Regions from separate parts of the Homo sapiens genome. Here region 1 is linked to region 2. The links come from fine-mapping of genetic effects on gene expression. A gene starts in region 2. The other region holds a variant in brackets. All regions are shown on one strand. Distances are between the middles of the regions.

Region 1 (2,785 bases), 110 kb before region 2:
CTCTGTCACCCAGGCTGGAGTGCGGTGGCACAATCTTGGCTCACTGCAACCTCTGCCTCCCCGGTTCAAGCGATTCTCCCACCTCAGCCTCTCAAGTAGCTGGGATTACAGGCACTCGCCACCACGTCCGGCCTGTTTTTGTATTTTCGTAGAGACAGGGTTTCACCATGTTGGCCATGCTGGTCTTGAACTCCTGACCTCAGGTGATCCGCCCGCCTAGGCCTCCCAAAGTGCTGCGATTACAGGCATGAACCACTACGCCCAGCCATCATCTATAATTTCTAATGTCATACAATGAACGTGTATAATTTTACAATAAAACATCCAATAAAAGTTATTTTCTTCTTAAAGAAGGGGCCTAGGCAGAAGCGCTTTCTGTCTTACCCCAGACAAAGCCTGCATTTTCTTTATGGACATCTGTGTGTTTTCCCCACTGATGCTCCACTTCCTTTCACGACCAGGAATCCAGTCAAATACAGCAGCCCAGCTATCATCACTCACAGTTAGCATTTCGCCTCTTGGATCAAATACATCTGCTGCTGTGATCTGCTTGACCACAACATTCTTTCGATATCTCTATGAAGTCTTTTACTTTTTTCCCCCTCTATATTGCAAGTAGAGCTACACTTCTGCTTTTCAAAAGTATTTCATTTTATCTAGCTTCTTTCATGAGGAATTCGCATTTCTGACTGATGTTCATGAACTCACATGCATTCGTTCATTTTCTCACACAAACTATACCAAGAGCTTGCTAAGTTCAAGGCTCTGTGCTCAGTGCCCTGTGAATACAATGTGGATCTGGCCCTCAAGTAGCTCACAAATCAATGAGCATCAGGTGAGAGGGACAAGGGCTGTGGTGAGGCAATGGCAACCTTTGGTTGTCAAGAGCAACAGACACAAGGGGCCCAGGGGAAGGAGACCCTGAAACAGGAGCAATTTGTACCTTGGTTAGGAGAGCTGGGATAGACTTTCCACTGAACATACCAACCCTGCTGGAAGCTGGAAGCACCTCATGTATCCCTATCACCTTCTTCCGTATGATAGGTTACATGTGAGTCCTTATTTTGTGCTCACCTCTGTTTTCTAATTGTGATGGAATTACAAACACTTTTTACTTTCTTCTTTTATGATCATCTATAATTTCTAATGTTATATGACAAACATGTATAGTTTGCACAATAAAACACCCAATAAAAGTTCTTTTTTTTTAAAGGGAAAAGGAAAACACTAAAAGGAAAGCTATGAAAACACTTCCAAAGAAGCAGTATGCACTTTGTGTTGTTTGGTTCAAATTATCAGGCTTAAGGATCTCTTAGGAAATCATATTTTCCTAAGTAAAGCTCTAGCTAGGGAATATTTTGGATGAAAAATTCCAAAAAAGATATTGTTTACTCATTATATAATAGGGTTGGTAAAAGCCAAAAATATTGTAGGAATAAGTATGTTCACCATCTCATAAAGACTCAAGTACTGCTTGCCTTTCTTGGATCCCCAGGCATAAATCAAATCATAAAATATTTTCCTGACAAGTTCTTAAATCTGTGACTTATAATGAATAGTACAGTTCTACTAGTCTTGCTAAAACATTAGTAATTAAACACAGATTTCAC[A/G]TATAAGGTCACTTATTGGAAATGCTATATTAACAGCTCCATATTAAAAACAACCCAAAATAAAATGAGTTCCACTGGGATATTACTTCCCAGACATCAAATAAATGTTCATTCCAATGTTACCACAAAGGTTATTTAAGGGGATCTCAAACGACCCAGATTTAGTTAACAGTAAATACATTCTTTCAGGTTAATACTACCTTAAGGTCTTTAACAAAAGAAATTTTAAAATATGAATTGGGTGAACGGCATAAAAATGTCACTCAAGCTGTCACACAGACTCAACAATTCAGTCTGACCAGGATATATTCAACACCCATATATCTAAAGCTGTGTGCTAGGTACTGTTGAGAAATGCTCCGTACCTCTGTGTTTTACTTCTCTCTTCTTCAGTCCATTCTACCCTCTGCTGCTCCAAAACTCATTACCCTGACAGTTGATGGCCTCTAGGATTTGGTTGACACTTTCCTAGTCAATGTGCTCCTAATTATTTTACCACCTTTAAAGCCCTTCACTAATTCCTCAGGACACACATTCTGCTCCTCTAGGCTGTTTGTGCCCTATCCTACCCTTTGTTCAGCTTCATCTCTGGTGGCTCCTGCTAGCACCACATATCCCATATGCTGAGCACACAACATTTTTCATTATTTCAGACACTAACACACTTGCCATCCTGCTTGGGAAGCATTTTTAAAACACGCTATTTACCAAGGTAGTGGACAGGGTACAGGGAAACCATGAAGCCTGGTGCAGCACCCTGGGGCTGGTGCCAGCCAGATTCTGTGGATTTGACGATTCTCATTATCTGCCTTGGCCCTGCACGCTAGATGGGGCAAGGGCAGGCAGGGGCTGTGTATACAGGGCTGCCTGAGAGGAACTAAGGCCTTCGGTTGAGAATCAGAGCCCACAGCAACCCACAAAGAGAGAGCTGGGGAAGTAAACAAACACACTTCTGTCCTCCCTCTCTCCAGTCGCCCTGCAGTGCTCGTTATTTGCCAAACCCAACCAGAAGCCAGAGGGCAAGGGAGACCATTGATGCTGTCCATGCAGGTCAGCTTCCCATTGGGTGGAGCGCGGGGCAGGGAAGGGTGGAGAGTGGATCTGGAGGGCAAAGAGAAGCTTTCCAGCACAGTAATTTATTGACTCACTGGACTATTTTTAAGCAGAGGAGTGAC
Region 2 (2,785 bases):
TCAGTTGTAGCCTACAAACGAGGAAAGAGTTCATTACCAACCAGCTCTGGCCCCCATGGCAGTAAACCGTGACTTAAGCGACCCATTAGATGGAGGGACCCTGAAGCCCATATACTATTTTGGAAAGGTTTGTGTTGGCCCAGGTTGCCGCTGCCTACTGCAGGGTGCAGGCTAACTGGGCTCCCTTTAGAAGGTCCACAACAAAGTCAGGCGAGGGCTGGACCTGTCTCCAGTGGGCATCTCATACCTCCAGCTCTTCAGAAGCTGAGATATCCCTGCCCAAGCCTATCTGTCAGCAGCAGGGTGTCGCTATTGGCATTTGACTCAGGAAGCCAGCACAGAGCCAAGGTTTAGGCTAGCTTCTGCTGCTCGCGGCAAAAATGAGTCTAAGACAACAAAGCCGCCCAGAGAGGGAAAGGACCTGCCTAAGGTCACACAGCAAGATAGTGACATTTTAGGGCTGAAACGCAGATCTTCTGATAGTTCAAGGCTTTCCTCGCTAGATGACACCGTGCGCCCTCGAGGTCCGGGACCCACACCCAGAGAGACGCCTGAGAGCTAAGTTCAGGGAGGTTTGGAGGACACAGCCCCTGAGCCAGCCTAACACAATCTCCTAAAAGTAGGTGAGGGCCAGCCAGCAGAGGTCAGCTGAAACCAGGAGGGAAGCGGGGACTTTTTCCCTTACTTTTCCTGTCAATTTACAGGGAAATCAGTATGAGTCGAGACTGGAAAAGCCGAGGTCACACTCGACTCCCGCTTCGCCTCGCGGGCGCCTTGGCGGAGCTGGTGTCCGGGGGCGGGTCGGTGGCTTCTCTCCATCTGGAGAAGGCATTAAGGGCCTGGTCTAATGTGATCCGCAAATGTGCTGCTGTTTCCGACCTGAGGCGGCGACTCCTGGCTGAAGGGAGGCGGCCAGTGCGGGGCCCTGGGACTCTGCGCCACCCTCGCCTGCTCGCACCAGCCTTCCGAGTGCACACTCCTCCGACTACCCGCTGCCTCGAAGTCGCTCCTCCAGTGCCTCCGCCGCGTCCCGGTCACCCCCACGCCCACTTTCCACGATCGCGCGTCGCCTCAACCCCCGGCGTTCTGGGCGCTCGCTACCCAGTGGTCAACCGGCCGGACCTTCGGACCCGCGAGGTTTCTGCTTAGTAACTCCCAATCCTGAAAAACTCCAACCCTGTGGAGTTCCCCCATAATCAAGAACGCCCCTCAGCCCGCGAACTGCCGCCGAAAGACTCTCCCTGAACCTTCCGGGACGGCACGAAGCGCGCCCGACCCGAGGTGCCCAGCAGTGAGGAGCACCCCAGTCCTGAGGCCCCCTGGGGCCCGCGTGGCACGCCCCGACTCTGCTTGGAGACCCCCAACTTGCTTAGAGAGGCCACTGCTCCAAGTCTTACTCCCTCTGGGGAGCGCCTTCCCCCGACCCCTGAGGGGCCGCCCTGCGCCGAGCTCGGTGCACCCACCTTGCGCCGCAGAAGTATCTGGGACGTGCAGCCCCGGGGCCGCGCGGGCTCGGCGCGCGCTGGGGAGAAGTTGGCAGAAGCCGCCCGTCAACACCTCGTGCGGAATCCGGCACCAGGACCTTCCCCGACGCCGGCCTCCAGCCCGCGGCGCCGCAGTCGCCGCCGCCGCCGCGAAGTTAAATGGGGCTGGGACGGGGGCTGCCCCGCCTCTCCCGCCCCCTCCGGGCGCGCAGAGCGCTGCGCTGGCCCCGGCCCAGAGGCGGAGGGCGCGCGCCGCCACCTGCACCGCCCGGCAAGTGCACGGCGCGCCCAGGCGCCCGTCAGCCTGCGCGCCGGCACCGCGCCCTCGGCTTGAGCTGGAGGCGCCGGGGGCGCGAAGAGACGCCGTGTGGGGCCAGGCCCGGGCCGCTCGGAGCGCGCGGGGCCGCGGCGACGGCGGGACTCGGCTGGAACGCTCCTCCGCCCGCTTCCTGGAAGCCACTCCTCGCCCTGGGCCGGCCGCCAGGCGTTGTGCCAAGAGCCGGGATTGCCGACGCCGCCACCGCCGCCGCCGGCAGGCGCACTGGGGAAAGGCGGCCGCTGCGCCGCAAGCCAGCCTGGCCGCCCCGCCTCAGCCGGAGCCGGAGCAGGGATGCCGTCGCTCCCCCCGAGCCCACCCCCGGCCCCACCTCCCATAGCCTCCACCCACCCCGCCCAGACCCGGGCGCCAGCTCTGCAAAGTCAGGCCCAGCAGCCACACAGAGGTTTGCCCGGAACCGCTGGCTCGTGCCTAAGAGCCATAGGCACTCCTGGCCAGGCAGGACCATAGTGGAGACCAATGGCCCTCTCCTGGCCTGCGCCTCCTCCGCGCAGCATAGACGCCACACAAGGGACTGTGGAGCGCTCACTGCCCAGAGGCCTGGGACCTTTGGCAGCCAGGGACCACGAGGATCTTGCAGGAGCGCCTCTTAACTGGGTACCTGGCGCCTCCTTGTCTGAGCCGGGCTTGGGGAACTGAGAGCTCCACAGGTGCCAGAATCATGCCGTGTCCAGGCCTGGGATTTGGGGTTGGGGGGAAGAGTGTCGCGGACAAGAGACTGGGGTGAGTTGCCTGTGTACTTCTGGAGGTGAGGAGAAGTAAAAGGAAATGTTTGTCCCTGTCCTTGTCCTAGTCCCAGCAGGATAAGCCAAGGGCCAGGAGATTGATCTTAAAGGCTGCATTATGCCCCCACCTAAGTCCTACCACAGTCGCCATTTCCTTGGGTGTCTGTCGAGTACCAAGCTCTTTGTGTCTATCTGATCTTCACAGCAGCAGTAGTTCGAGCATTATCCCATTTCACCTA

Alleles and levels. Alleles are on the strand shown, and positions count from the first base shown. SD is a standard deviation of normalised expression in the study named.
For the expression in skeletal muscle of the gene that starts at base 1,617 in region 2, A is the low allele of the variant in region 1 and G is the other (small effect, 0.19 SD a copy in GTEx).

What was found. PIP is the estimated chance that this variant, and not a neighbour inherited with it, causes the effect. A credible set is the group of variants that fine-mapping cannot tell apart.
Region 1: its variant is the best candidate, but not a certain one, in a credible set for the expression of ADAMTSL3 in skeletal muscle (GTEx, PIP 0.76).

What each region holds. Positions count from the first base shown.
Region 1 is chr15:83,764,295-83,767,079 of GRCh38, reverse strand. All of the region lies in intron 3 of ADAMTSL3 (ADAMTS like 3), which reads right to left. Among named protein-coding and RNA genes, the nearest start is that of ADAMTSL3, 110 kb to the right of the region's middle. The variant A/G (reference allele first, on the strand shown) is at 1,611.
Region 2 is chr15:83,652,955-83,655,739 of GRCh38, reverse strand. It overlaps ADAMTSL3 (ADAMTS like 3), which reads right to left and starts at 1,617. Exons shown (of 30, transcript NM_207517.3): 1 at 1,464-1,617; 2 at 1-11.